Regions from separate parts of the Homo sapiens genome. Here all the other regions are reported to be linked to region 3. Evidence: microRNA targets listed by miRTarBase, many of them from high-throughput screens and not tested one by one. Region 3 holds a microRNA gene; each other region holds the end of a gene's coding sequence. Distances are between the middles of the regions.

What was found. Region 3 holds the annotated microRNA hsa-miR-6828-5p (AGGAAGCAAGAGAACCCUGUGG, at 1,981-2,002, shown strand). A microRNA usually pairs through its seed, bases 2 to 8, with sites in the 3' UTR of a target mRNA and lowers its output. Matches are read on the target gene's strand: a 7mer-m8 pairs with bases 2 to 8, a 7mer-A1 pairs with bases 2 to 7 and ends in A, and an 8mer does both.
Region 1: the mRNA of AP3S2 is a reported target of hsa-miR-6828-5p. Seed matches in the 3' UTR shown: 7mer-m8 at 1,123-1,129, 7mer-m8 at 1,451-1,457, 7mer-m8 at 1,720-1,726 and 8mer at 2,243-2,250.
Region 2: the mRNA of EPHX4 is a reported target of hsa-miR-6828-5p. The part of its 3' UTR that is shown has no 7-base or 8-base seed match.
Region 4: miRTarBase lists CBX4 as a target of hsa-miR-6828-5p. Seed matches in the 3' UTR shown: 7mer-A1 at 1,034-1,040.
Region 5: miRTarBase lists SLC12A8 as a target of hsa-miR-6828-5p. Seed matches in the 3' UTR shown: 7mer-m8 at 3,163-3,169.
Region 6: the mRNA of SOX17 is a reported target of hsa-miR-6828-5p. The part of its 3' UTR that is shown has no 7-base or 8-base seed match.
Region 7: miRTarBase lists PODXL as a target of hsa-miR-6828-5p. Seed matches in the 3' UTR shown: 7mer-A1 at 2,858-2,864 and 7mer-m8 at 1,711-1,717.

What each region holds. Positions count from the first base shown.
Region 1 is chr15:89,832,004-89,836,282 of GRCh38, reverse strand. AP3S2 (adaptor related protein complex 3 subunit sigma 2) reads left to right here. Exons shown (of 6, transcript NM_005829.5): 6 at 640-4,279. The coding sequence ends at 768. It overlaps ARPIN-AP3S2 (ARPIN-AP3S2 readthrough), which reads left to right. Exons shown (of 10, transcript NM_001199058.2): 10 at 640-4,279. The coding sequence ends at 768. LOC124903552 (a long non-coding RNA gene) reads right to left here and starts at 374. Exons shown (of 2, transcript XR_007064754.1): 1 at 1-374.
Region 2 is chr1:92,062,482-92,066,760 of GRCh38, reverse strand. EPHX4 (epoxide hydrolase 4) reads right to left here. Exons shown (of 7, transcript NM_173567.5): 7 at 3,223-3,706. The coding sequence ends at 3,475. It also overlaps the pseudogene LPCAT2BP. Among named protein-coding and RNA genes, the nearest start is that of SETSIP, 11 kb to the left of the region's middle.
Region 3 is chr3:170,421,128-170,425,406 of GRCh38, forward strand. MIR6828 (microRNA 6828) reads left to right here and starts at 1,976; the gene lies at 1,976-2,035. It overlaps CLDN11 (claudin 11), which reads left to right. Exons shown (of 3, transcript NM_005602.6): 2 at 2,036-2,200. RefSeq lists an enhancer at 4,228-4,279.
Region 4 is chr17:79,830,021-79,834,244 of GRCh38, reverse strand. It overlaps CBX4 (chromobox 4), which reads left to right. Exons shown (of 5, transcript NM_003655.3): 5 at 1-1,089. The coding sequence ends at 286. Among named protein-coding and RNA genes, the nearest start is that of CBX4, 7.3 kb to the left of the region's middle. RefSeq lists an enhancer at 1,550-2,371.
Region 5 is chr3:125,080,486-125,084,764 of GRCh38, forward strand. SLC12A8 (solute carrier family 12 member 8) reads right to left here. Exons shown (of 14, transcript NM_024628.6): 14 at 2,159-3,567. The coding sequence ends at 3,405. It overlaps LOC124906278 (a long non-coding RNA gene), which reads right to left and starts at 1,581. Exons shown (of 3, transcript XR_007096045.1): 1 at 1-1,581.
Region 6 is chr8:54,459,727-54,463,953 of GRCh38, forward strand. It overlaps SOX17 (SRY-box transcription factor 17), which reads left to right. Exons shown (of 2, transcript NM_022454.4): 2 at 1-1,166. The coding sequence ends at 269. Among named protein-coding and RNA genes, the nearest start is that of SOX17, 3.9 kb to the left of the region's middle.
Region 7 is chr7:131,500,531-131,504,809 of GRCh38, forward strand. PODXL (podocalyxin like) reads right to left here. Exons shown (of 9, transcript NM_001018111.3): 9 at 1-3,978. The coding sequence ends at 3,781. Among named protein-coding and RNA genes, the nearest start is that of PODXL, 54 kb to the right of the region's middle.

The sequences.
Region 1 (4,279 bases), not on the chromosome of region 3:
GTACCCACCATGTGCCAGGTACTGTGAGAGGCTGGGGCTGTGAAACTGTATAGGCCACACTCCGCCTCTGAGGAGCTGGTAGTCTAGTAGGACTGCAGGCTTTGGATCCCTGTGCCAAACCCCATCTAACCTCAAGATTGTTTTGTTGGCTACTTTTGAGGAATAAGGGGGGAAAGTTAAAACTTCAGTTGTGTGTGCTCAGTTTGGAATTTTTCTAGGCATCCTTCACCTGTTATTTTGTTTGTTTGTTTGTTTGAGACAGAGTCTCACTCTGTTGCCCAGGTTGGAGTGCAGTGGCGTGATCTCAGCTCACCGCAACCTCCGCCTTCTGAGTTCAAGCGATTTTCCTGCCTCAGCCTCCCTAGTAGCTGGGACTACAGGGGCCCGCCACCACTCCTGGCCAATTTTTGTATTTTTGGTAGAGATGGGGTTTCACCATGTTGGCCAGGCCTATCTCGAACTCCTGACCTCAGGTGATCCACCCACCTCGGCCTCCCAAAGTGCTGGGATTACAGGCGTGAGCCACCACACCCATCCTGCTTGTTTGTTTTTGTTTTTGCTTTTTTTTTTTTTTTTTTTTTAGCATTAAGCAGATAACAGTGAGAATTTGTCTCATACTCGCCTCTCATTTCTTCTTAGGGTGGCCTTTCAGCAGCCCCTGCGCGGGCTGTGTCTGCTGTGAAAAACATCAACCTGCCAGAGATTCCTCGGAACATCAACATTGGCGATCTCAACATCAAAGTTCCCAACCTGTCCCAGTTTGTCTGAGGATCAAGTATTGGCCTGAAATAGAGTCCTTAAGACAAGCAAAGACAAGCAAGGCAAGCACGTCTGGAAACAGAACCCATTTTGAGCCTTAGAAGAGTCAAGCCTCAGGACCTGGAAACTTTGTGTCTGGGGAAGACTGTTTGGCATGGAATAGGGAAGGGATTCCTATTGACACTGCTCGGGTGCACCCAGTTCTCACATGTGCAGTCATGCCGTTCTCTGATGCATACGGCCACTGCAGATGTGAGGGGCCCTGCCTTCCTCAGTAGGGAGTCAACATGCCCAAGTCATTTGCACCTTTACCTCTCACATGGATGCTCCCAAGGGTTAGGGACTGCATTGAGCAGGCCCACCTGCTTCCCAGAACCTCCTCACTAGGGCTGAGCACCTTCTCTGAGTAGAGTCTTCATCCTTAGCACCACAGACTTCTGAGGTCCTGTGCCCTTTACTTGCTGGTGAGGTGTCATAGGTAGAAAAGGGCTGGCCCTTCAGATCTGGGGGTGTGGTGAGTGGCAAGTAAGGGCAGAATTTTAGGAGAACCAGAGTCACCCGCTGGCTCTACTGAGATTGTTACACCCAGAATCCTTTTGTGTTTTTTTGTGGTTTTTTTTTTTTGAGGTGGAGTCTTGCTCTGTCACCCAGGCTGGAGTGCTGTGGTGCAATCTCGGCTCACTGCAACCTCTGCTTCCCGGGTTCAAGCATTTCTCCTGTCTCAGCCTCCCCAGTAGCTGGGATTACAGGCACCCACCACCATGCCCAGCTAATTGTTGTATGTTTAGTAGAGACAGGGTTTCACCATGTTGGCCAGGCTGGGCTCGAACTCCTGGACCTCAAGTGATCTACCCGCCTTGGCCTCCCAAAGTGCTGGCATTACAGGTGTGAGCCACCGTGCCCGGCCACCAGAATCCTTTGGTATAGCCAAGCCTTTTGGTTACCGCCTCATGAAGAATATGCTTCCCGCATTGTCCTAGTCCCAGTTGTATTCTCACAGGTGTTATGTGCAGGACACAATCCAAATCATAAACCTGGCTCATGCCCAACACATTTCTGCTAATAGGGAGAGGGACCCACCACACACCCACACATGCCAGAGGTCCCTCCTCACAGAGGAGAGGGCCTGTGTCTGTAGAAGGTTAAAGCTGACAACATGTGAAACATCCCAGAATTATGACTCTTCCCAAGTTTAAAATACATTCTCCTCATGAGAGCAGAAGGTTTGTTGCTGTGTTGTGAATGATGAGCTGCCTCCATAGGGAACCCACTGCCACCTGGGCCAGCTTCTGGAGCATGAGAACCTGAGCCAGGGTCACCCTTGTGGGGCCTGGACATGACGCACGCTGGCTGCGACTAGGAGCAGGGCTGCCTCTTCTCCCTCCCCAAGGTCTGCTTGTGGGCACGCTCTGTTCCCTCAGGTGCCATTCTCCCAGGGCTTAGGCGCCCATAAATGTTCTTTCTGTGGTGGAGTAGGGCCTCCTGCTTCCATACTGTCGCATGGGCTAGATCTCAGGTGTGGTGTTGAGCCACCTTAAGATGAGGGCTGCTTCGCAGTAAAGTTTCCAGCCTGGGCCCCTCTTGGGCCTTCTGGCTGGGGACCCTCAGCCTCCTGATGCTGTTGCAGGGCAGGTCTGAGAGGGTGCCCAGCAGCACCCGGTGTCAGGGCCACCTTGTTTTCCATTTTTGAACAGCGCTCCCTGTGGTTTGTGCCCACTGCTCAATACAGCCTCCGATCCTCACTCTTGAAAGCTCCATGATAAGCACAGAGATGGGCAGTGTGGGTCAGAAGGTGGGCCGCTTCCTGTGGAAGAGGGAAGTGTAGGTGAATAGATATCAAAACCCCTGATGTCATTCTTTTGAGGGGTTGGATTTTCTTTTTTCTGGCAGACATTTCAGTACATTCACATTTCTCTCACATTTGCTGAATGTGAGATCAGAATAAAGGAGATCGGCGTTTATTTCGTACCTTCTGTAAGTTGGCATGAGCAAGATCATTCAACTGTCCTTACAACAGGCATTCTTATCCCCATTTTGCAGATGACGAAAGTAGACCCAGCTCCAGTAACCTTCCCTTAGATTACACGGGGCTGAGATCTGAGACTGTTCACTTGACTCCACTGTCCTTTTCTTTCCTCGCTGCTTAAGATGGCTTCTCCCAATGTTATCATCTTCTTTTTTATAGATAAGGAAACTGAGCCTCAGAGAGTCTGACTTCTCACAAACCGTGGTCTAAATAGGCTTGATTTTCTAAGGTGGCCAGTGATCATGTCATAGAGTATAAGAGCCAAAGAGTCGTCTGTGTCCCTCCATTTAACTGATGTTGAAGCCGAAGCCCAAGGTGGTAAATGTTATGTTGAGGGTCACAAATCCAGAGCCACATCCCTCTTCTTGAGTTCGTTTGTTACGTGGTTTAATGCATTACTGCAGGACAGCCCTTATGCTAGATTTCCTGGGATAGCCTAGATTTTGAATGTTTTGCCTGCCAGAAACCAATGGTTTTAAAAAATCATTGAGTGGTCCTACAGATTCAAAGCGAGCATCCAAACATCCCTCACATGGCCTCTTACAATGACATAAAACTGAAGCCCACTTTTTTATTTGGAAAACTCAATCCCTTTGGACAAGCCACAATAATTTTTCATTAACTACTTGAGGTTGCCTGCAAATTCAGCTAGCTTTCCAGCCTGCTATCAGCAAAGCCATAAACATCTTTTTTAAAAATAGGTTAAGGTTGGCCAGGTGCGGTGGCTCACGCCTGTAATCCCAGCACTTTGGGAGGCCGAGGCGGGCAGATCACGAGGTCAGGAGATCGAGACCATCCTAGCTAACACAGTGAAAACCCATCTCTACTAAAAATACAAAAAATTGGCCAGCCGTGGTAGTGGACACCTGTAGTCCCAGCTACTCAGGAGGCTGCGGCAGGAGAATGGCATGAACCCGGGAGGCAGAGCTTGCAGTGAGCCAAGATCGCACCACTACACTCCAGCCTGGGCAACACAGCAAGACTCCGTCTCAAAAAAAAAAAAAAAAAAAATAGGTTAAGGTTGTATAGAATACTAGGCTTTCCTTTTTTTGTGAGATGGGGGTCTCACACTGTGGCTCAGGCTGGAGTGCAGTGGTGTGATCATGGCTCACTGCAGCCTCGAAGCCCCGGGGTCAAGTGATCCTCTCACCTCAGCCTCCTAGGTAGCTGGAACCACAGGCACGCAACCACCACTCCTGGCTAGTTTTATTTTTTTAGTAGAATAAGGTCTCACTATGTTGCACAGGCTGGTCTCTAACTCCTTACCTCAAGCCATCCTCCCGCCTTGGCCTCCCAAACATGTTGGGATTACAGGTGTGAGCCACTGGACCTGGCCAAATACTGGGTTTTCAGTGCTCACTGCCACTAATAAAAATCTGAAATTCTTTCATTATGCAATTTCTAAGTGCCTGGTGAGGGCCAAGCTCAGTTCTAGGCTCTGAAGATTAAGAGAGAAACAAGGCTCTGTCTGCTCCTGTTGTCTCTGTGAGCATC
Region 2 (4,279 bases), not on the chromosome of region 3:
TTCCCAGCCAATGGGATCTGCACATTTTGACTTGCAGAGACCACTGAGGGTAACCCTGCCACCACACAGGGGATTGAGTCAAAGAAAGTGGACCGTGGTGCTGTAACGAAGATAGGGGCCTTGTCTTGGGTTGCCTTTTTCCCTTTCACTTTAGCCAGGAACCCAAGTAAAAAGAAAGCCACCTGAAGCATGAGCTTGAGTACTGGTTTCACCAGTTTTTTTTCTCCAACTCTTGGCAGGGTTGCAGGATTTGAGCAGGATAGCCAAAGGTGGAAAGCATGGCCACTGGCCAGATGAAGAGGAAGGCGATGCAGGACATTCGTACCCACGAGGATGATGCAGGTCCAGCACCATGCACAGAGGCGTGTCTGCTGAGGATACAAGGACTTGATTAGCTCCTGCGTGATCCCAGACTCCTTCGCCTCCAACTCAGAGTCTGTGGATGCAGAGCCGTGAAACCGACTTAGCAGACCCAGGCTGTGTGTAGCCTGGATTTGGGGGCAGCCTTTGACATGCACCCTTCCCCACATCCAACTGCTTTTTCTGTTTGCACATAATTAGAACTGTTAGAGGAAATTGTAGGTTAATAGAAAATGCTGCATTACCTTTAAAATCAGAAAAATCAAAGATGGTAAATGATGTAACAGGAGAATTTGAATCATATCAACAGCACATTCTTTCTTTCTTTTTTTGCAAACATCTTGCTTTTGACATATGCCTAATAAATTATTTTCACATAGCAATTTCTGATGTTAAATTAGGCATATATTATATACTACTAGGGATATATTAATTTGAATAGATGAATATTATTAATAATTACAACTTTTAATTTAGGTGCCATTACCTGTTTTTATTTACTGTGAGCTGCTTTGGCAGCTAGTAAATCAAATTCACTTACTTGCCCTACCAATAGATTTCTACAGAGATAGTAATAACTGTTTATCCTAAGAGGTTTAACTCAAGATGGCACCCTTGAGGCTTTATATCTGTTACAAGTACTTTTCCATATCTATTAAAAATTAGAGTACATTCATTGTAATAGGCCGGAATTGCCCATGGAATGTTTGATTGATAAATTCTTAAAATTAGTCCACATGAACTTGTCAGCTTCCTAAACTGACATAAGTAGCAACAACAACAAATCTTAAAATCACCTTTGTCAGTAACAGGTTTTTATTAAAATAAGTCAGGATTACTTTACTGTGTCAACACGTCCCATTCTTTCCCTTGTTGCTGCCCTTCTGGAGGGATCAAGAGGGAAGCAACAAGTTGGTATGAACCAGGATTTTTCTATACCTTGTGGCATTTGCAACTCTGACAATGCTCTATAGAATATTCCTATGTTTACTAATGGCTAATTTGAATTCCTTTTCCCTCCCAAAATTAAAAGTCAAATTGTAGGTTCCTGAGAGATATGGCCATCTATTGAAACACACCAGATTACTGCTGAAACAGGAAGAGTGGCGTGGATACCACAAGTCTGCTAAATGGTATCTGGTGTAAGTGGGATCATGGGCTTTACCACCAGATGGCTCTAGGTCAGATCCTAGCTCCAGAACTTACACTATGGGCATTGGCAAAGTTACACGTTAAATCACATTTTTACTATTTATAAATTGGTGATACCTACCTTGCATGTTGTTACGAAGCAATGTGTTGTATAGAGAATTGGATTTTTGTTGTAAATACAACTTGCTGTGATACAGTAATGAGAATTCTTAGGGACATTCTCCTTTGTTCTGTCACGATCAGAACTATGCTTAATGAGGGAAGCAATCCTTTCACCAATTTAGGGCTTATTTGTTCTGTGATGTGATTTGGCAGTGTTACTGGTTGCCTCCCATGTTAAAGGGGAACAACCCAAAAGAATGAGTAGTAGTCCCCTGAGTTGGTATTGTTCTCTATTCTGTAACTCTTTTCAACTCTTACTTATAATGTTCATTTCTACTCTTGAACCTTTATTTAATTTGACTGCATTCTATGTATGCGTCTTTTTTTTTTTTTTTTTTTTTTTTTTTTTTTTTTTTTTTGCTCTTGTTGCCCAGGCTGGAATGCAGTGGTGCAATCTTGGCTCACTGCAACCTCTGCCTCCCAGGTTCAAGCAATTCTCCTGCCTCAGCCTCCCAAGTAGCTGGGATTACAGGCATTTGCCACCATCCCCGGCTAATTTTTGTATTTTTGGTAGAGATGAGGTTTCACCATGTTGGCCAGGCTGGTCTCGAACTCCTGACCTCAGGTGATCCACCCATCTCAGCCTCCCAAAGTGCTGGAATTACAAGCATGAGCCACCACACCCAGCCCTTAAGGCTTCTTATGGGAAAGTTCTATGTTACCACCTTATCTTTCTTTTATATTCCCCACCCCCCCGCAGTGCCTAGCAGTGTGCCAGATATATTATTTATTCATTAAGCAAATGTTTGAGTGCCTACAATATGCCAGGCCCTTAGTCTAGACTTGAATATGTATCAGTTAATAAAACAACAAAAAAATCCCTGCCCTGTGGAGCTTAGATTCTAGTGCATATAAGATGTGTAATATTCAATTCTCGTTGCATTGAATGGGGTAAAAGGATCCTTTCCTTCCTTTTCCCTCTCCCTTTCCCTTTCCGTTCCAACAGGGTCTCACTCCATTGCCCAGGCTGGAGTGCAATGGCCCAATCATGGCTCACTGCAACCTCAAGCTCCTGGACACAAGCGATCTTCTCACCTCAGCCTCATGAGTAGCTGGGACTTCAGGTGTGCACGCCTACGCCTGCCCACTTTTATTTTTTATTTATTTTTGGTAGAGATGAGGTTTTACCATGTTGGCCAGGCTGGTCTCAAACTCCTGGTCTCAAGTGATTCTCCCGCCTTGGCTTCCCACAGTGCTGAGATTACAGGCATGAGCCACCACGCCCAGCCAAGATGTCAGCTTTAAAAAATGGTTTAATGTTCCCAGTATAAATAGTATATGGCCCATTTTAAAAATGCATATTCATTTAGCTATATTTGCCTTCAAACTAATAGATATACTATAAATCCAAAGAGATTCGATAATATAACTTTTTAATGGTTAAAAATAGTAAAAAGAATTTTTGAACAATAGAATGAAAATTTATATTATTTCAGGTTTGCCTTATAATATGGCACAGCTAATCTTTAATATACATTTGTAAAAGGCACCATATGTTAACAGAGTAAAAAAAAGCAAGAAACCAAAATGGAAGCACTTACTCCAAACTTCCTTTTTGTACAAGTGTATATATTTTAAGGCAGATGCTTGTCTGTGCAAAATACACCAGAAGAAAATCAACATTGTATTATATGTTCACATGATCTCAGATTTTTTTCAATACCATTTGTCAGGATATTTATTTATGATAAAGCACATTAAAACAGTTTTTTTCTAATAAAACATAAAGAAGTTGATGAACAATTTTTAAAAATTATTTAGAGATTTCATTACAGACCCTTCATAGAAGATAAAGAAAAGTCAATCTTTTTTTCTTGTTTCTTCTTTTAGAAATGTCCATATCAATTTGTTCACTATGTCAGGTTGGTCTTGCTGAAGCCAATGACTGGCTTCTGACAAAATAGTTAGCCTGAAATAGTTTTTAACATAAATCTTTGTGACTTCAGCCATCTCAACCTCCATGAATGCGTCATTCTCTCCCCACAGTAGTAGTGTTGGAGTGGTCACCATGTGATGTTTGAGAGGCAGGCAGCTATAAAAACAAAATACATGGGCTTGAGATTCACTGTCAAAGTTAAAATGACATTTTCCTATAGTGCCCCAGTAGGTCATACATTCTTGAAGTGAGCAATCTTGCCTCTAAAAGGGTGAAAATTGTGTTCTTGGGAGGGTGAAAAAAATCTTACCCTTTGCATATATAAAGCATGGATATACATACAGTACATAAACAGATACTAAAATTTCACAGGGTGGGGGTGATTAGGGAAAAAAAAGTCTAAAAAGGCTCCTTAGGAAAGTGATAATGAAAAAGTGATTGAGAAACAATGCATTAAGTAATCAACATTTACTATAAAATATTTAAAAGGCTATTTAAGAAAAGACCCAGTAAAATTTAAATTGGATGAGGCTAGTAAAATGTATAATAAAAGCTGTAAGTTAAATAGGAAATTCATCACTATGAGGAGTAATTTGTTTCTTTTTTTTTTTTTTTTTTTTTTTTTTGAGATGGAGTTTCACTCTGTCACCCAGGCTGGAGTGCAATGGCACGATCTTGGCTCACTGCAACCTCCACCCTCCGGGTTCAAATGATTCTCCTTCCTCAGCC
Region 3 (4,279 bases):
AGAGGGGAGTGCATACTCTGGGGGTGGGGGGGGGGTGGGGGGCGGCGCTAGTCCTTCCTGCCTTCCCCCTCCCTCATACTTTGGGTGGAGGCAGGAACAGTCCTCTGTCCCTATCTTTTGGTGTCCGGACATGGCCTTGGCACTGTAGCATGTGGACAGCCAGTGCCATGGATTTCAGAACCTGCATTGCCAGTTGACTGCCTGCTTTGTGTGAGTACTGGCTCTCTACAAGCCGCAGAGGCGGACGGCTGGGTCAGGGGATGGGCCTCAGACTTCCTGGAGCTCCTTTCTGGAGATCTTCAAGTCAGTAGACACTTGACTGATTATCTTTAATTCTGAAGGAGCTGAGATGGGCAGTGCTGGAAGAGGGCCCTTGTGAAGTCCGAATTCTGGCAAAACGTTCCTTGCTAAGAGACAGCGTTGAAGTTAGGCCTTTTTGCACGTGAGGGTCGTGGTGTGTGAGGCAGATGTCGGCTAGATTCCTGGCTTTGCTATGAACTCTGCCTCACCCAGGCCACTAGTACTAGTTCCTTCTGAGCAAAAAAGGGAGGGTAATAAATGTGACCCCCCCCACCTTTTTTAAGAGGAGGGAGAGTTTTAATGAGAAACATTACATTTGAAAGTGAAACAAATTTGTCTGTGAAATTCTCCCAGTATCTTGTCAGATTTATTCTAAATAAATGTGACACATATTGTAATCTGTTTCTTAATACAGTTTTTACTTGGCATTTTACTTGACAGGATAAAGTTCATGTAGTTTTGCTCTACTCTTCTATTTTTCAGTTCTCTTATTCCTTGATTCGCAATTGTTTCCATGATCTGTTGTGGGCACTGTGTTAACTCCGTGAATACCAAGGCAGGTGTCTGCCCTCCAGGAACCCTGAGGGCTGGAGAGATGCCTTTTAAGCAATGATGGACAGTTGGGGAAGGATGCCCAGGGCACTGTGGGTGAGGCAGGAGATGGGGTCCAACAATTTAGGGGCAGGATCCATGAGGACAGCAGCCTCTGGGGAGACAGCAAAGAGAGGAAGCCTGAGTCTTAGTTTAGTCTGGGTTAGGGCCACAGCCAATGTGAATGAAAGCACATGGTTAGGAGAAAATCACCTAGGACACCTGAAGATGAAAGCGCTGCACTGAGACAGACAAAGAACACCAATGATAACAACTAACCTTTTTTGAGGATTTGGTATAGGCACTGTTTTAAGCACTAAATAAATTAACTAATGTAATCTTCAGTAGAATTCTATTACAGAGATGTAGGTACTATTATATTATTATCAATACTTTGTTTGTTTATTTATTTATTTATTTTGAGAAAGAGTCTCGCTCTGTCACCTGGGCTGGAGTGCAGTGGCTCGATCTCAGCTCACTGCAACCTCCCCCTCTCAGGTTCAAGCGATTCTGCTGCCTCAGCCTCCCCAAGTAGCTGGGACTACAGGCTCACACCACCACACCAGGCTAATTTTTGTATTTTTAGTAGAGATGGGGTTTCGCCCTGTTGGCCAGGCTGATCTTGAACTCCTGACCTCAGAAGATCCACCTGCCTTGGCCTCCCAAAGTGCTGGGATTAGAGGTGTGAGCCACCATGCCTGGCCTGTTGTTACTTTATAGATGTGGAAAATAAGACATCATGGTTAAGTAACTTGCCCAAGGTCACACAGGTAGAGCTATCAATAGCAGACTGGAACCAATAGAGGCCCTCACAGAATGATTCTTGGGAGATTTCAGTTTTCATCTGAACTTTCTCAGGGGGATGTAATAATGTAAATGGACTCTTGGCCCCTCCATCCTGGAAGCTTGGCCAAGTGGCCTAAACCAGGGGTCCCCATTTAGTTTCTCCAGCCCCCTTTTTTCTTGCTGAGTTGTTTTAAAAGTTAAAAAGTGCTTAGTGACCTTGGACAACATTAGCACCTTCTAAGTCCTGGAATCCACCAAGAAGGAGGAAGGGAGATGGTGCTGAATTCCCCTAAGGCAGGGCTCAGGAAGCAAGAGAACCCTGTGGTCTAACCTTTCCCATCTGCTCTCTTGTTCCCAGGCTACGTGCAGGCCTGCCGCGCCCTGATGATTGCTGCCTCGGTCCTGGGTCTGCCGGCCATTTTACTGCTGCTGACTGTTCTTCCCTGCATCCGGATGGGCCAGGAGCCCGGTGTGGCTAAGTACAGGCGGGCCCAGCTGGCTGGTGTTTTGCTCATTCTGCTGGGTAAGACAGCTTTCTCAGTGGTACCCTACCTATGAGGGAGCCTGATGAATCTCAGATCTTGTGGTTGCTGCCTTCTCAAGTTCAAGAGAAATGTGAAAGGAAGCCAAGTGAAGCCAGTGGGGGATGGACTCCCACAATCTGTATCCCTTTGTATTTTATGGGCAGTTTACACAGAGGGCTAAGTAATGTCTCTGGGAGTCACTGACCATGAAGATAAGTTTAAAAAGAGAAAGAGGATTTTGAAGGTAGGAAATACCTAAGGGAAAGACCTGAAAGATGGAAGCCTTCTCAGTCTTCACAGTGGAATCCTTTTTGAACACCTATGCCCAGGTCCCACAGCAGATCAATTGAATCAGAATTTTCTGGGCATCAGGCCAGGCAAAGATATTTTTTGAAAGCTTCCCAGGTGATGCTTATGTGCAGGCAAGACTGAGCAGCTCAGTTAATAAAGAAGGAGGCCGAGGTGGGCGGATCACCTGAGGTTGGAAGTTCAAGACCAGCCTGGCCAACATGGTGAAACCCCATCTCTACTAAAAATACAAAAATTAGCCAGGTATGGTGGTGCATGCCTGTAATCCCAGCTACTCGGGGCGGGGGTTGCTAAGGCAGGAGAATGATTTGAACCCAGGAGGCAGAGGTTGCGGTGAGCTGAGATCACGCTACTGCGTTCCATCCTGGGTGACAGAGTGCAACTCCAAAAAAAAAAAAAAAGAAAAAGAAAAAGAAAAAAGAAAGAAAGAAAAAAGTAAAGAAGAGGGCAAGAGAAAAGTCAGGAGTTGAGGGTGGTTAGACCACCAGGTGATGGCTCCGTCCTTTAACTCAGTAAGCCTTCCTTGAGCATGTGGGCCAGACACCATGGTAGGTACTGGGGACACTGGGGAAAATAGGCCGTCTTTGCTTTGAGTGTACTTGGAAACCTCAATAGAATATGGTATGTGCTCATGTAGAAAAGGTATATAGTCTGTGCATACACATAGGAAGGCACCTAACCCAGACTGGATGAGTTTCCAGAGTGGAAGAACCCAGCAGTAAGCTCTGAGACTTGAAGAGGAGGTGGGCTGGTCATGAATTGAGGGGAGGGACAGTCCAGGGACAGGAAATGGCATGTGCTCATTTGGTTTTGCTGATTATACCTGCACATAAAGGGCTTCATTTAACAACCTATGGAGGGTCCTTCTAGCTCTCTTCTCGTCAGTGATTTAATTTCTCTCCGTTTTTTTCCCTCAGATGCTAGTTTCATTAGCACATTCTAAATCCTAATAGACAATATGAATTTTAAGAACAACTCTTGTTGCAAAGTGCGCATATCAGTGACAACAAATTAGTCTGGTAATGGGTTAGATATAAAATCACCTTCTTCTGAAACAAGGAATTCATACCCCCAGATTGGCATATCAGATGATGAATTTGAGGGGTAAGGATAAGGGGTCAGGGTTCTGTGTGGGTTGATGCCACTTGGTGGGTACCTCCCATCTGGAGGCCTCACACTCATAATGACACCAGTAAGGTGAGGGGACATGAGAGGTGGGGCACCATTTTCCAGGATTGCAAAGGGACGGAGGTTTGCAGGTTCTTGTGAAGCCACAAGGGTGTGTGTGTGTGTGTGTGTGTGTGCGCGCGTGTGTGTGTGTTAACAGGAGTGAAAAGGCCACTAATTTCCAGAGAAAAATCTGAATGTGGAAATTTTGGTTCCAGCCACAAAGAATTTGTGTGCCAGCGTCACACGGAACACATATCAGCATCCGGTGCTTTATCTGACTCACAGGGGCTCCCTCTTGCAGTGCTCTATGGAGGTCAGGTCTATTGTCTGACTCCCTTTCCAACAGGAAAGTGAAAGCTCCACAAGTAAACTTGGTTTGCAGAATCCAGGTGAAACCCTTCTCCTAGACACTTGCTGTTTGTTACTTTCCTCACATTCTCACAGAAGCCCCGGAAGGTTCTCTTGGGCTCTGAGGATGGCAGAGCCAAAAGGTGGGTCTGTTGTGTTGAGTGCTCATGTTTAGAAATTCTGGCCTTCCATATGAATGTCACAGGTATCCACAAGTGAGAGAACACACTAAAACAAACATACAAACCCTG
Region 4 (4,224 bases), not on the chromosome of region 3:
CTCAGACCTGGATGAACCCATAGACTTGCGCTGCGTCAAGACGCGCAGCGAGGCCGGGGAGCCGCCCAGCTCCCTCCAGGTGAAGCCCGAGACACCGGCGTCGGCGGCGGTGGCGGTGGCGGCGGCAGCGGCACCCACCACGACGGCGGAGAAGCCTCCAGCCGAGGCCCAGGACGAACCTGCAGAGTCGCTGAGCGAGTTCAAGCCCTTCTTTGGGAATATAATTATCACCGACGTCACCGCGAACTGCCTCACCGTTACTTTCAAGGAGTACGTGACGGTGTAGCCGGAGGGCGTCGGAAGGGGAAGCGCCATTCCCGCGGGGGGGCGGGGAGCTGAGCACCTGGGGCCTCGGGGCGGGCTCCCCTCTCGCCAACCCGCCAACCGCGAGAGACCCAGGCTGGCCCCCAGGGTGAGGACGCCCGGAGCGGAGGTAACCATGTTCCCCCTGCGGCGGCTGTCAGACCTGGGCGGAGGCCCCTTCCACGCGGTGCCGGCGGGGCTCGCCCTCTCCTGCCCTTCCCCGCTGGAGATGGACCCCCGGAACGGACAGGGCAGCTCTGCGCCCGGCCTCAGAGTTCTAGTATTATATTTTAACCGTGCTAACTTGTCAAGTGCTGACTCTACTCCCGTTTGTACGTGGTGTTATTATTGAAATGTATTGTTTGAGCTCAAAAGGCCCGACCACCCCCCTTCGGGCTGCTATATATATATTTATTTGTAGGTATTTATATATTGAAATATAAAAACCTAGATTTATGGAGTTTCCTCTAGATCATGTTATATTCTATATCAGACAAACTATTTTCTTTTGACCTTTCTTCCCCTCCATCCAGTATTTCGGTTGATTTCATTTTCTCCCCTCTCTTCCCCTTCCACGAACTGCAATACCAGTAACCTTGGTATATATTTTTTGATACTGTACACATGGATGTCTTGTTTCTATGTGCAAAAAAAAAAAAAAAAAAAAGTTTGTTAAAAGGCTACACGAGCTCTCTAGAAACTGCTGCTACTAGAAATGTCTAAACTATAAGCTTCCAACTATTACCTGCTTGAATGTAAATATTAAATGGAGATGTTGAAGGTGCATTTTCGCTGTTTGAGATGAGCGGACCCCTCTCGCCACCAACTCCGCCTTCGAGCCCTGTGCTGAACCTTTGCACCAGCGAAGTGGGCTGGTTTTGCGGGCCGCGGCGCCGGCGCAGGAGGGTGACCCCGCTCCCTGGGAAGTCGAGAGGCGCCCGGCTGGGAAGGGGAATTCCTGCGGGGGGGTGGGTGTGGGAGCCGTCCCCGCCCCCAGGGCTTTCCGGCCGGCGGTGCCCAAGGCACTGGCAAACCCTGGGTTCTGGGTAGGGGAGGAGGGGGTGCAGGGGTGGGCGGCGCGGACACGCGGGTGGGGCTAGTCTCCCTCGCGGCACCCACTGGGCAGCGGCTGACCTTTGGCTCTCCTCCCCCGTAGCCTCCACCCCTGGGGCTCAACACACCCAGGCGCAAGCCCTGGCGGGGCAGGGAGGTTCCTTCTTAATAATCGCGCCCGGTAGGGCAGGTTCCGCGGGGCGGGGACCCCCAGCCTCTCCGGCGTCCCTGGCTGGCATCGCCGGCCCTGCCCCACTGAGGAAGCTGCCGAGGCCCTTGCTCTTCGGGCTCTCTCCCCGGAAACCACCAGGCCAGAGGCTCCCACTAGAGGCGCGGCGAGCGCTGCCGGGGTGGGGGGCGGGGGGCTTCCTGCGAGATGGATGGGGACGGGGAGGAGGGCGGGGGAGCGAGGCCTGCCACCCCCACTTCCTTAGCGAGGAGAGCTGGGACTCCTCACCCTTCTCCCTTAGGGTGGCAAGGCCAAGGCCCTTGGTGTCGCGGGGGAGGAAGGGGTTAAGGTCCCAGAGGGGGCGACGGGACTGGGCCGAACTCCGGGGTGCGGCTCAGCGGGCCAGGAAGCCGCGACCCGGGAACGCGGCGGCGGTGGCCAGCTTTCTGCAGACGCAGCGATCTTCCTCCTGGTTGAGGTGGCCGCACAGGGCCAGGGACCGCGGGGCTGGGGGCCTGGCGGGCGCGGGGCTGCTCCCGGCCTCCGAAGCCCTTCCCCTGCCCGCCTGGGACCAAGGGGCCCGGGTCTGTGCGGGGCGCCAGGGCGGAAGAGGTCAACGTGGTTCAGAGTGGTGGGGGGTGGCGAGGTGGCGAGAGAGCCAGTGTGGGGAAGGCTGGGGAGAGATGAGGGCCAGGAGGGCGGGGAGGCCTGAATGCGGACAGTGTGGCCAGTGTTGGCTGCAGGCCACCAGCGGCTGGACGTGGGGGAGGGGAGCCCAGCATGGGGAGGGGAGGGGGAAGGGAAGTTCTTTAAAAAAAAGCCGTTGGGAGTTTCTAGCCCTGGCTTTTGTGAGTGGTCCCTCCCACTCCCCGGTCACCCCAGCCCCATTTAGAGTGAGTTACACAGTCCCCTCCCCCTCCACGGAATGAATGTCCTTTGCCACCCCGGGGGTGGAAGGAGGGTGATCTTGCTTCTGGCAAACTGCCTGCTGGGCACGAGAATTGGGCCTGTCCTTCACCGGCTGGTACACAAAGGCCCATGCCAGGCGTGGACGTCGTCTCCCTGTTTTTCTAGCTGAGGAGAACTGAAGACTCGGGAGGGGAAGGGAAGCCTCTTGTTCAGGCCCACAGTTGGTGACCAGAGTGACCCTTAGCCCTTGGTGGTGTCCCCCACCCTGTGGGTGGCTTCTGCCTGGCTGGGTCTGGGGGTGGGAGAGGGGAGGTAGAGGGTGGCACTCCCGCAGAACAGGGAAGGAAACCGTTCCACTACCATTCCTGGAAAGGTGTGGCCTGCAGGTGGCCTGAGGCCTTCAAAACCAGGCCTGCTAGCAGAGCCCTCGAGTGGAGAAGGGTGGTCCTGGGCAGAGCCTGAAGCCTGAGGTCAGAAGGCAGACAACGGGCAGAGGCCACGGGTGGGTCAGGAAGAGCTGCTGGGATATCAGCCTGGTGCCAGACCCAACAGAGTGCCCAAGACCCCCTCTGCCCCTAGTGTCCGAGACCCCCTCTGCCCCTAGAGTGTCCGAGACCCCCTCTGTCCCTAGAGTGTCCGAGACCCCCTCTGTCCCTAGAGGGTCCGAGACCCCCTCTGTCCCTAGACGAAAGGGACATTTGCTGACCCTTCTGAGACATGTCAGGTGCCACTGGGCTTGTGACTCTTGTTCAATTCAGTCCCCACAGGGGTTGGGCTTCCCTGTGGGAGGAGAGTCTGAGGTCCTGATAGGCAGACAGCCTGCCCAGGTTCCATGCTCATTCTAGAGCCCAGCTGGCTGCTCCACCACCTGCAGGGAGACACGCCATGGCCACCTGCCCCAGGGCCTCTTGGACACAGGCTTTCGAAGGTGTTAAGGGTTTGGAAATGCTCCAAGGGGGCCAGGGACAGGAGGGTTTCTCCTCAAAGGGTCTTTGGGGTGGGGAGAGTCCAGGTGCCCCAGTTCTTCTGGGTGTAGACGGCCTCTTCCTAACCCTGGATGTCCCTCAGTGCCCACAAGCAAAGGGTAGTAAAACCTCTCTTTGAGCCCAAGCTCAGGGAAGAGAAGGAAAGCAGGGTGCTAGGTCTTAACCCTGCACACTAGCAAGCCCACGGTCTTTATTTTTCCTCAAAATGAATCTTTCTAATGGGGCTGAACCTCCAGCATTCAGGCTGGAGCTCACCCAGGCAGAGAGAGGAGCACTTGTGTATCCACCCCTGAAAAGCGAGCCCTGCCTACCCCAGCCCCGCCCCAGTCTCTGGTCTCCGTGCAGCCTGCCCCTCCCCCAGCTCATTTGCAGAAGAGCCAAGTTCGGCCCTTTAGCGTTTGCTCCATCCCTGGATCCCACTGGGTCCAGCGGAGAGGAGATCCACAGATCCAGGGTGCTTTGGGTCCAGTGTTGGCAGACTGAGCAAATAAAAATCTAGGGCGCCCAGTGAAATTTGAATTTCAGATGCACAATGCATAATCTTTTAGTGGAAGTTGTCCCATGAAATGCTGGAGACATATTTCTACTTTTTTAAAAAAAGGATGTGTTGTTTATGTAAAATTCAGACTCTAGTTGGCCATCCTGGATTTTATCTGGAAGCCGTATTTTGGTCCTGAGTCGTCAACAGGGTCAGTCCCTGCCCACAGGGATGTTCTAGTCCAGTAGGAGAGAGAAGGCATGGGAAGCTGAAAGCCACCTGTCCTGCCACTGTGGTTATGATACTGTATGTTGTCAGGCATAGAA
Region 5 (4,279 bases), 45 Mb from region 3:
CTGTGACAAAGCACCAACTGAAGCACACGCCTTGGGAGCACAGGTGGCTCCTGCACTTGGTGCTTAAGGCGAGCAGTGCCTGATACTGTTCTCAATCCATCCCATGCAATGAGCAGGAACCCCAGGATTGAAGTGGCTTAAACTCTTTGTCACACAATCCAGGGCAGTGTAAGGCAGGCAACTCCTGGGCTAGAAGAGTTGGAAACTCGATGAGTCTCATACAGGCATCATGTGTGGGGCCAACAATATCCATGAGAAAGGGCAACCATCTCTGGAAGCCCTGAGACCCCATCTCAGGTGCTCTTGGCCAAGGTTAGATCATGTCCTTACCTAATCCATCAATGGGGAGGCAATGAGGGCTCCCAAAGGGCTTAAACAGAGTGGTTACTTTTTTAGCTTGTTATGTAGAATTCAAAAAAGCAGATTCAGTAAAGGTTCTGTGATAGGCTGAAAAAGGGCCCCCCAAAAGACCCACGTCCTATTCCCTGGAACCTGTGAATGTTTCCTCTTTTGGCAAAGCGTTTGCAGATGTGATTAAAGTACAGCTCTTGAGATGTGGAGAGGATCCTGGATTATCTGGGTGGTCCCTGAATGCAATCACATGTATCCTTACAGAAAGGAGACAGAGGTAGACTTCATATACACAGAGGAGAGGGTGATGTAAAGATGGAACAGAGAGATTTGAAAATGTTGGCTTTAAAGATTTGGGTGATGTGATCACAAGCCACCAGAAGCTGGAAGAGGCAGGGAATAAATCCCTCGTGGAGCCTCTGAAGGGAGCTCGGCCCTGCTGACACCTTGAATTAACCTAAGTGTTACTGATTTCAGATGTCTGGCCTCCAGAACTGTGAAAGAATACATTTCTGTTGTTTTTAAGCCATCCGATTTATGTAATTTGGTATAGTAGCCACAGGAAACTAGAACAGCTTCTTCTTAAAAAGCGCCTGGGTAATATACCAAAAAAATTAGCCAGGCGTGGTGGTGTGTACCTGTAGTCTCAGCTACTTAGGAAGCTGAAGTGAGAGGATCACTTGAACCTAGGAGGTGGAGGCTGCAGTGAGCTATGATCATGCCACTGCACTCCGGTTTGGATGACAGAGTGAGACCCTGTCTCAAAAATAAATAAAAAGGTCCTCCAAGGTCACCCAACTTAGCCCTTCATAGCTACAACCTTTTTCAGCATTTCTCCTTCCTACATGCCTACTGCCAACTCAGACTCTGCTTTCTAATGATGCTCAGAAATCTGGTATTTAACTAAAGCCAGATTGTGAGAACAGTAATAATAAATGAAACCTCATCTTCCAGGAGAGAACATTAGGATCTAGCTGACCCTTCATCCTGACCTTCCCAGCCCTCACCCACACTAAGCCCCTTCCATTCAACAGCTCAGCATTTCTCAAAATGCGGTCCAAGGACTGCCTGCATTGAATCACCTGAGGCACTTGTTAAAGATGTAAAGTCTAGGACTCCATCTCAGACTTGCCAAATAAAAAGTTTAGGGGTGAGATGCAGAAATCTGCACTTTTTTTTTTTTGAGACAGAGTTTCACTCTTGTTGCCCAGGCTGGAGTGCAGTGGTGTGACCTCGGCTCACTGCAACCTCTGCCTCCCAGATTCAAGCGATTCTCCTGCCTCAACCTCCCAAGTAGCTGGGATTACAGGTGCCCGCCATCACATCCAGCTAATTTTTTGTATTTTTAGTAGAGACGGGGTTTCATCATGTTGGCCAGGCAGGTCTCGAACTCCTGACCTCAAGTGATCCACCCGTCTCAGCCTCCCAAAGTGCTGGGATTACCGGCGTGAACCACCAAGCCCAGCCTGAAATCTGCACTTTTGACAAGCATCCCAGGTGATTGTTAGCCCACTGATTCATGAGAACCTCCACTATAGAAGAAGGAGCCAGAAGTGATCCAACAGTACTTTCCTCCATGGCTTGATGGCGAAGCCTCTGACCCTGGGCCAAGTGCTAAACTTTTCTGGGGAAAGCTACTGCCACGGCCCCCGGTACTGGGTGCTTGTGATGAATGTCAGGCAGAGCTCATAAGGAAACCAAAAGAGTCCTGTCCCCTCATGCCTTTCATGTTGCAAAACAGCTGCGAAGGCATTCCAGGAGTTGAGGACCACAAATTCTTTTGAGAATATGAGTCACCATTAGGCAATTCATGTTAATTCTTTAATTAAAAAGACCCTCACTAAACAATAATAGTTTACAAATGCATGTACCTTTTGATCCTGCAATTCCACTTTTGGGAATTTATCCTAGAGATACACTTTATGCTTGCACATTTGTACAAGATTATTCACTGCAGAGCTGATTGTCATTGCAAAAGATTGGAAAGAATCCAAATGCTCATCATTGTGGAACTGGCGAAATAAATTATAACACATTTATACAATGAAAAAAATGAACAAATGGCATATGAATTGATATGAAATGTCTCCAAGATAGATTGTTAAGGGAAAAAAGCAAGGTGCAGAACATGTGTATAACGTGCTAACTTTTGTGTATAAAGAGAGAATGTGAGACTCTACATTCCCATTTGCTTGTATATCCATAAAGAAATGCTGGATGTACGGATGAGAATAGTGGTTACCTCTAGGCCAGGGTAGACAGGAACTGAGCAGGTGGAGAATAAGGATTGGAGGGAGACTTTTCACTCTATATATCTTTTGGGTGTGGAAACATGTGAGTGTATTATTTATTTTTGAATAAATAATACAATAAAATATAAAACATACACTTATTGTGGCCCTCTGCACAAGCAATCTGGTTGTGCAGAGTCTTGGTGTCCCCTGCTAGTCTTAGTACCTGTATAGAGCTCTTCAGACTGGGTGTCGTGTTGCAGAGGCTAGCACCATTCCTGATGTCACCCTGGGTGAGACGTGGTCCTCAGAATCCAGATTTCCTTTTTTGTCTTTTTCCTTCTTCCACATGTTCTAAGAAAACATAGATTTCTGGCCAGGCATGGTGGCTCACGCCTGTAATCCCAGTACTTTGGGAGGCTGAGACGGGTGGATCACGAGGTCAGGAGTTCGAGACCAGCCTGGCCAACATGGTGAAACCCTGTCTCCAGTAAAAATACAAAAAATAGCTGGGTGTGGTGGTGCATGCCTATAATCCCAGCTACTCAGGAGGCTGAGGCAGGAGAATTGCTTGAACTCGGGAAGCAGAGGTTGCAGTGAGCCAAGATTGTGCCACTGGACTCCAGCCTGGGTGACAGGGCGAGACTCTGTCTCAAAAAAAAAAAAAAAGGGAAAAGAAAATGTAGATTTCCATTGTCCAAAGTGACAGCGGGAGGATGGGTCTTGAGTTTCTCAGGTTGGAGAAGCAGCTCCACGAAGGTCCTGAGCTTGGGTCCACTGTACATGGGACAGCTCCAAAAGAGGAAGGTCCCAGCACTGCATCTAGTAGTGAGGCATCAGCTGCTCCCGGTTCACGAGGGAGGAGTGGTGGTAGCGATCCCGAGTGGCGAAGTCTGCATTCTCCTGGGTGAGCTGAGTCATCTCCATGTCAACCTTAGCCAGGGACGGCGCCAAGATGATCTGCTCCTGAGGGGACCGCAAGCTCCTGCAGTGAGAGAGACACAGAGGATGGTGAGAAGGACAGAACAGAGACTGAACAGTAGAGGTGAGTCTACTGGGCATAAAGAAATTATCTGTAAACACACATGTATTTAAATGTTTAAAACATAATTCTTGAAAGGTATATGTACAGGTATATATGAACTCAAAGCATGAGAAATACAAAGTATCAAATAAAATAAAAAGAGACAGAGAGAGTGATATTTACCCTCCCTAAGTAGAAAAGTATAAAGCTGTACCTACCTGATAGGAAATAACCAACAAAGAGAGGTTTTGCCCTCCAAATGGTATCATGTTGGGGCTCTGTAGCTTTTCTTTGCCTTTTTTTTTGTCAAAAATAATGGAATGGAGAGGCTGGAAAATTGAGAAGAGCAGAAAGAGAAAATTCTCGTAGGTCTATTGAAAAGAAAGTTGAATAAGGAGTGATTTCAAGAGCTAAGGCTCACACAGCAAGCAGCTAAGAGGGACTGCAAAGGCTTTTGACACCAAGGTGGCCTCAGGTGAAGAGCAAGTCCCATATGGATCCCACTGTCACTGGAGTCTCTGCATACAGTTTCGGTTGGAATAAACTGGGAAAGAAAAATGTTAGGGATGCATAGGGAAAGTGCTAAGAGGAAGAAAGGAGTGAGGAAAGCTCAGGCTGGCTGTCCAGGCAGCTGCTACGGAAGGCAGACCCAGTCACAGCTCCATCCCTAATC
Region 6 (4,227 bases), not on the chromosome of region 3:
ACCCCCCGGGCCCCGGACAGCCGTCGCCCCCTCCGGAGGCACTGCCCTGCCGGGACGGCACGGACCCCAGTCAGCCCGCCGAGCTCCTCGGGGAGGTGGACCGCACGGAATTTGAACAGTATCTGCACTTCGTGTGCAAGCCTGAGATGGGCCTCCCCTACCAGGGGCATGACTCCGGTGTGAATCTCCCCGACAGCCACGGGGCCATTTCCTCGGTGGTGTCCGACGCCAGCTCCGCGGTATATTACTGCAACTATCCTGACGTGTGACAGGTCCCTGATCCGCCCCAGCCTGCAGGCCAGAAGCAGTGTTACACACTTCCTGGAGGAGCTAAGGAAATCCTCAGACTCCTGGGTTTTTGTTGTTGCTGTTGTTGTTTTTTAAAAGGTGTGTTGGCATATAATTTATGGTAATTTATTTTGTCTGCCACTTGAACAGTTTGGGGGGGTGAGGTTTCATTTAAAATTTGTTCAGAGATTTGTTTCCCATAGTTGGATTGTCAAAACCCTATTTCCAAGTTCAAGTTAACTAGCTTTGAATGTGTCCCAAAACAGCTTCCTCCATTTCCTGAAAGTTTATTGATCAAAGAAATGTTGTCCTGGGTGTGTTTTTTCAATCTTCTAAAAAATAAAATCTGGAATCCTGCTTTTTTGCTCTACTAGTACCTCTGTCACACTAGTCTTATCAAAAACCAGTTCTTAAGATCAATGTTAAGTTTATTAGTTAATGTAAATTTCTCATCCTCGAAAAGGGTGAACATAAATGCCTTTAAGGAGTATATCTAAAAATAAACATTAGGATATCTAAGTTTGATGTAATTGTTTCAGGAAGGAAAAAAGAAAAGCATTCTGGAATGAGCCTACTTCAAGTAATCTTAGTTTCTAAAACTAACAGTTAATATTTTCAATTCCAGTATATCACTTTAAGTAGAAGGGGATGTCCAAGTAATTTTGGTTTTCTAACTGTTGAATCATAAGCTTGACCTGCCCCCAGAGGCTTTTTGGATGTTTTTATCTGTGTTTTGCCATCTCTTTACACTCCTCGACATTCAGTTTACCTTAATCTTCACATTTTTACACCTTGGGAAGTGGCAAGCATCGCTGGGTTTAAGATAAAGGAGTCACAAAAACTAATCAAAATAAAATTTGCATTATGACAACTTTTAATACACTTTAGCATTTTATTTGATTGGTTTTTTTTTTTTTTGCTTTTAGATTTAATACATATACGGACGATTGCACAGACTTAGGGGAGAATCCATGAATGGTTTGTGTGTAGTGTCCCTATCTATCACCATTACTTTATCAAGAAGAAACAGTTACAGGGTTGTGAGTAAAAGATGGGGATCAGCCCCTGTAATCTGCCATACTAATCGCTGTGGCACGTCTCACCACATTTGAGATTGAGACATAAATGGAAACAGGTGACTTATAATGGGCATTTCCTGTGCCAGATGTTTGTTCAATGCCATTCTAAACAGTGTGAGCCTCAACAAACCTGCAGGTTTAGGTGCTATTTTTCCTATTTTGTAAGAAAAGGAGGCACCAGGCCTTCCCCTGCCATGTATATGAAGGCTTGTATTACAAGTTCTTTTGACATATTTCTCACCTGTTTTCCTCTGGGCCAGTATGTATTCATGGGCACTGGGAGAATTTACATTCTGTTGATGAGAAACCATATAATTATCCTTAGCAGCAAGTGCTATAGAAAAAGGAAAGGCTTGGAGGATAGCTTCCAGCATTTACATGGGAGAGATGTCTGAGCTGAAATGATTGGCTGGATTCTCTTGAAAAAGGGCATGGAATATGTTTTTTAGAAGGGATTCCTGGAATGTGAAGGATAGACAGTTTTAGTGAGGAAAGGTAAGTTTATTCTGTCAGGCATAACAGGCTGCCTTTAAAAAGGTTAAATTCTTTCTCTTAGCTCAGATGGGTTGTTTCTGCTTCCAGCCTGAGCTCCTTCTGCAGGGTGTCCCAAGAGTTCCCAGTAGATAAAGTGGACAGAAGGGCTACCAGCCCAAGTTCAGGGCTGTGCTCAGATTACACTTGGCATTTTCATCATAGTCAGCCCAAGAAGACTCAGTTTTACCCTTGGCTGCCATCTCTTAACGATATTAAGATAAGTACAGAAAAGAAAAAGAAAAAGAGTTCTTAGGGGAAAGATCTAAAGTCCTGTAAATTACATCTTTAACTACTCACTAGGCGCAGGTGGAAAAGCAGTAAGAGCTAAAATTGTTAAGTTAATGTTCATGCATTTACATGGATGGAGGGATTGGTGTTCACAAATAATTTTTTTTGGGTAAGAAGCATCAAGCCAATTCCTTCTCTTTCCTCAAGCACACAGATCAAGTGACTGCAGGTAGCAGCTAGTGATTTTTTTTAATTCCTAATTTTAGTTTTTATGGGTACATAGTAGGGGTATATATTTATGGGGTACATGAGATGTTTTGATACAGATATGCAATGTGTAATAATCACATTATGTAAAATGGGGTATTTATTCCCTGCAGCATTTATCCTTTGTGTTACAATCCAATGATACTCTTAGTTATTTTAAAATGTACAATTAAATTAATATTGGCTATAGTCACTCTGTTGTGCTATCAAATACTAGGTCTTATTCCTTCTATGTTTTTTTTTTTTTGGTAGTTTTAAATTACCAAAACATTTGGTATCCTTAAACCCTTTCTCATTTTAAAGTACAGGGATGTGGGCCCTGGTGGCAAAATTAGAAATAGAGCTTTGGGGTCCATTACAGACCATTATAGTTTTAAAGTGAACGACAGAATGTAAAACTTCTGCCTAGGTCGAACGACTCTATGTCATCACCAAGTGAACAGACCTCCCCCCACCACCAGGTATGACATCGCCAAATGCATAAATCCCCTCTGTGACATTACCAAGTGCCTGGATACCCCCATGACATCACCAAATACGCAGACCTCTGTTTCCTCAAGTAGATTCAGATGAAGTGACCACAGGTACCAGCTAGTGAATTTTTGAGACAAAATATTAAATCTGTCTCAAGTTTTTACTGTTTTATTTTGGAGACAAATACACATAAAGGATACATTGCTTTTCTACCCATGTCTAATTTGGTACTTTAGAATTACATTAGGAGGTAAGAATCCAGCTCTTTTATGAGCTAAGATAGCCAGACTTGATGCCAGTACAGAATGTGCATGCCTTTGAGACATCCGGAGCAATAAGGAAGAGGTTATTTTTTCCCCCATGAGAATACTGACTACATCTCTATTAAAGCTACCAGGTGGGTCTGATAAATTACAGATAAACTTGTAAATGACTTACACAAGCAGCTAAGAGATAATATTGCAATGAAACAATTTACTTATTATTCTTATCAGTAGATTATTGCCTCTTTAGTTTGAATCACGCTGCAGAAGATATCAGCTTGAATTTGTACTGATATTAGGAAAAGCACATACAAGCCAAAGGAATTCAGATAAAATGGAAAGGGTGCAATGAACCAAAAGACATCATCTCAGCCTAACATTTTAAAATGTCCCATTTCATTTTGTTTTTAATACTGTGCCTGTCACATAATAAATGTTCAACATTCCCTTCCTCCTCCTGTTCCTCTTTGATTTGTTTTGACAATAGTGGACAGGGAGAAGTATTTTACATCCATTATTTCAGCACAAATTTATTTTTCCTGCTTACAAGGTGCTTCCTTCTGGGTCTACAATATTCATCTGAAGAAAAATGGCACTGATGTTCCTACCCAGTCCCCATCTGGAGTAGGCTCAAGTTCCTCCACAGGGTGGGCTCCTAATGGAGAGAGTATTTCTTTAGGTCCTCTGGCCTGGGATCCAGCAGCATCTCAGTTTTTCACCATAACACCTATCCCTACCCTCCTTCTAATGAGAAGGTGGCTGTGTGCTTTCTCTGGAATTACCAAGCAGCTTTATGGGAATAATTCAGTTTGCACCATCCTCCATATACAAACACTGAACCCTCACCACTGATATTTTTCCCAGGTTGGTTCAAGACACTGGAAACTACAATGTCTTAGTGCAGCACTTAGTACACGCAAGTGCTAAGTAAGTTGTTGTGATAATCATGATGTTCTTTAATGTAAAAATTTCTCTGTAGCTAAGATTCAAGAAACCATTTGGCTAAATATTTTAAAAATCTCTTCTTGCTGAAGAAATTTTAGCTTTGACAATCTTTTTTTCCACTTGAATCGAAGTCTTAAACCTTTTGCCAA
Region 7 (4,279 bases), not on the chromosome of region 3:
GCTAGTGACCGTGACAAAAGCTATGCTACAGTTTTACTCTTGCCCTCTCTGCCTCCCCCATCATGTTTCCTTGGTCCCTCAGTCCTGTTGGAGTAAGTTCCATATATAAAAGCTCATCCAAAACTTTGTTTCTTGGCAGAAAGAAAGAATTGTTCACTTACATCTTAAACCTAAATGATTCAGAGAAAGTGTAGAAGACCAGTTCTTATGTTTGTGTTCATGCCCTCCCTAGCCTTGCTAGGGTAACAACTGGGAAAGGAATTCTGTCCTTTGTGTCATTCTGGCACCTTCGAGTAGCAATTCTTAATTTACCGATTATTCCTTCTGAGGCGCACAGTCTGTGGATCCAGGTTTTAATCTTGTTTCTGTCCTGAACCATGTGATTTTGAGGAAGTCACTTCATCTTTGTGAGCTTCAGATTATCTTTTTCTCTAGAAAAAGATTGGACTAGATCTTGAAATACCTTTCTCCATGACTACAGGGTTGCCTGCCAACCAGAGCATATTGACTCCAACCTTTACTGAAATGGAGCTGTGACTTTGCTGGGGAGGGGGCAGGGTTGCATTTTAAAATTAAAAAAACAAAACAAAACACCTGATCTACAAGACAAATACTTTATCATAAGTTTGTCTTGTTATATTTCATTTTTTGTTTAAAAAAAAAAATCAAGCAAAAACTTGTCATTTCCAGTAAGACATTTACATTCCTGTCCAGAGAAAAAACTTGGCCATCACTCAGCTAACATAATGCTTTTTCAAAGTATGTTCACTTAAAGCAGTGCAGGGTAGGTTAACATGGTCACTGTATTTACATTATCAAAAAAATATGTGTATATGTATCAGTTTGAACTTGTTCTTCAAAGTTTCTCCAGTATATTGTCAAAAAAGATAAAGCTCAAGAAGTGGTTTAAATAAACTTTCTGCTAGCTTTCCTTATCAAGCGGGAAAAAAATCTGGTGCCTAGACTAGATTAAACCCGTATTCTGTCTTACAACGCAAAGAATATTCTGTACCTCCTTCATAAGCTTTGCTGCCTGTCTCCCCACTCTCATGACAGTAGGCTTCCTAGTCATCATACTTGTGGTTTCTGGCCTCCTGTGCAGCTTGGGGAAACCACAGTTTACCACTGAAAGAGCTGATGATAAACTGTCTTTGCTACAACCTGTTTAAGTCATGCTGAGCTTCTAGTGTTCCTCTTACCTCTTCCCAGACCCAATGCTCTCTGAATTATCAGAGAGCATTTAGAACCCAGTAAAGGTGGCAGAAGATGATGACCTTTATAGATGCATGGCTGTTTGGCCTGTTGACATAGGTGTCCTGGTGGCAAGAGCAAGGCAAGGTGTCAGATTCTGAAGCTGTCCTAAGCCTAGACTAACACAGTTTGGACGAATATAAAGCAGTAACCTCTGAATCAGCCCAGAGCCTCTCCGGGTTCTCCTTGGACAGAGCGATGGAGAGTCAGGAGAGTCAGGACCGACCTGGCCAGGCACTCCTGCTCTCTAGTCCTTGCCAGTCATCATCTGTCTCCAAGAGGCCATAGGGTTGCAGCCTTTGATTGATTTGCAGAGGCCTATTTGCTGTCTCCGTCAAAAGCCCTGGCTGGTGAAGTGTGACCCAGGATCAGCAAAGGAGGAATAATCCAGTCTGGCCTCTCCCACGGGACCACAACAGAAAACCTACTGGGTGGAGAGAACCCAGCGCTGGGCAAGAAGGAAGCAAACACCTCACTCAAGCCTAACAAGATTTCCTGTTTTCCCCCAAACAGGCACTGTTCTCCATCCTGCCCACCTCCAAACACTAGAGCATCGGGGCAGATGTTTTTGGAACTTGTTAGCCTCGCATCCCTCTAACTCCTGGGAAACTCGCTGGGGCCCTATGTGAACCCCTGGCCTTCCTTTTCCCCTAGGATATCAGATGGCTACAGACTGTGAGGAAGGAATTAGGCAGATGGTGCAGGACAGATCTTCCCCAGCCCCTCCCCCTACCCTTTTAAAAAGTAAGCCATCCCGAGTGGATAGCCTATTTCATCAGAGCTACTACAGCCGGAGCCTGACTCTTAAGACCCTGGAGGTGTGGCGTTTCACCCGAAAAATGGCAATTTCATTCCCCTAAGCAGTTCTGCCCATTTTCCTACTTGATCCCAGGGAATTTACGCCCAGAACGATGGAGACCATGGCGAAAGTTCAACATTCCACACAGGATTCCCCCTTCTCAATCAGATGAAACCTCACCATGCCCACTGCTTAGGAGCCTTCTACATGGCAGCTAACTGCCGAGCCCATAAAAGTCCTATATTGGGGAATAGACATAGCTTTGTGTTCCCCTGAGATGCCACCAGAAACTGCAAGAGAACCGCAGCAGCCCCACTAGGCTCACAGAGAAGAGGAACAGCAAGGCCTAGCTCCAGGCCAGGACAGTGGGACGTTCCCACAACAGTCTGTCCCCCAGGCTGCCCTTCATGCACCCAGCATGCACTGCGCTTTCCAGGCCCTCTTTTCCTGTGGCACAGGAGAATCAGAGTGAGTGAGATGAGCTAACTGGACGTCTGCCAACTGTCTGAGCTTTTGGCCTTTGGCAGTGGAGGGCTGGGTTAGAAAACAACTATAACAAAACTCTCAGCAACTTGAAATGTCCCTGAGTTTCCTATGATATACAGGGGAAAGCCTGTCCTTCCTGGCTGCTTTAATGGATTGTCTCTGAAGACACATCGCTGATGGGGGGCCCCGGGAAGGCCTCTCCTGCAGCCACTGCTCTTTCATACTGGGTCTCAGGGAATCACTCCCATCAGCTGAGCAGTGAACAACAAAAGGAACACGCTGCTCTCACTAGCTACAGCAGATTTTAGTCCCTGGTGGAAATGGAAGCCCAAAGAAGATCGTGGGTGGCCTCTGCAAGGAGTGCCAGGGGCAATGGGCCAGTGTTCCTGCTGACCCCTCATCAGCTGCCCTGAGATACCAGCCTGGACTCGAGTGTCCCCTTCTCTCCTCACCTGCACGCAGGTCCCCTAAGCAGACCTGGTTCACGCACGGAGACCTGTGTGGGTTAAGCCCCCATCTCACGAAGCAAATGTGAGAAAATCCGAATCCAGAACAAGGGGTTCAAGGTTATGAATAACCTGTGCTAATCCCAGAGGCCCCAGGACAGAGTAAGTGGGAACAAACACTGAGTGTAGGGAGGGGTAAGAACATAGAGGGTGGGAAGATGGGTACACGAGGCTGGGGTAGGAGAAGGAAAACTTGGGAGCTGGACTTTCAGGTCGTCAGATCCCACCGAGCCAGGATGTAGCCCTGCCCTCCTTTCCAGCCCAGCCACCTGCTGGAGTTTCACCCCTGCCCGGGACTGCTCTGGACGGAAGGCACATGTGAACACAGCAGTGTGGCATGGTGCAAATGGAATCTTTGTTCTCATCCTGGCTCTGTCACCAAGTGGCTCTGACCTTGGGCAAGTCACTTACCCTCTTCAGGTCTCGGCAATCTCACTGCAGAATGAAGGGATTCCACTAGTTCATCTATAAAGTCCCTTACGTGGCTTTTTCTTGATCTCCCTCATCATCCAGCAGCACTGAGCTCAGGCACTAGTGGGTTATTTTACAAGAGGAATCTGGACAGAATGTGATTTGTTCAGGTTGAAAAGGGAAAAATTAAGGCCCTGGGGGGATTGGGAGGGGACACCCCTCGGAGTTCACTCTCCCTCCCCAGTCTTTCCCTTCCCCATCCAAACGGCACTTGGGGTGGTTGGTCTGGAGCTCTGTGGTGCTGCTGGAGGCCACCGGCAGACCGGACTAGAGGTGTGTGTCTTCCTCCTCATCCAGGTCGTCCTTGGTCAGGTTGTCCAGAGGGACGATCCAGCTGTCCCCCAGCTCCCCGTTGAGGCTGACCACCTTCTTCTCCTGCATCTCAGAAGAGGTCTCCATCACTTCCAGTGTTGGGTTGTCATGGTAACCATTCTCCACTGTCTGCAGCTCCTCTGTTAGCCGCTGCTAGAGTGGGGAAGGTGACCGGTGAGAAGGGGGTTTCAGAGGGCTCTGAGCTTAATACAGCGCATGTACGTACCCCTCCCACTCAGGAGCCCCACTGTAGCTAAAGCAGGCCCTCATTGCTCGCCTGTGGGGCTGGCTGCTCCTGGTGGTCATTCTGGCTCTCAGCCTGCCCGGAACTAGTTGGGAACAAAGACTTGCCCCTCACCCTCACCCTGGTGGCAGAACCTGTGAAGTTAGTGGAGATGGACTTTGTTCTCCAGAGTCCTCTAAGCTCTCTCCTCCCCTTCATCCCTTCCCCCAA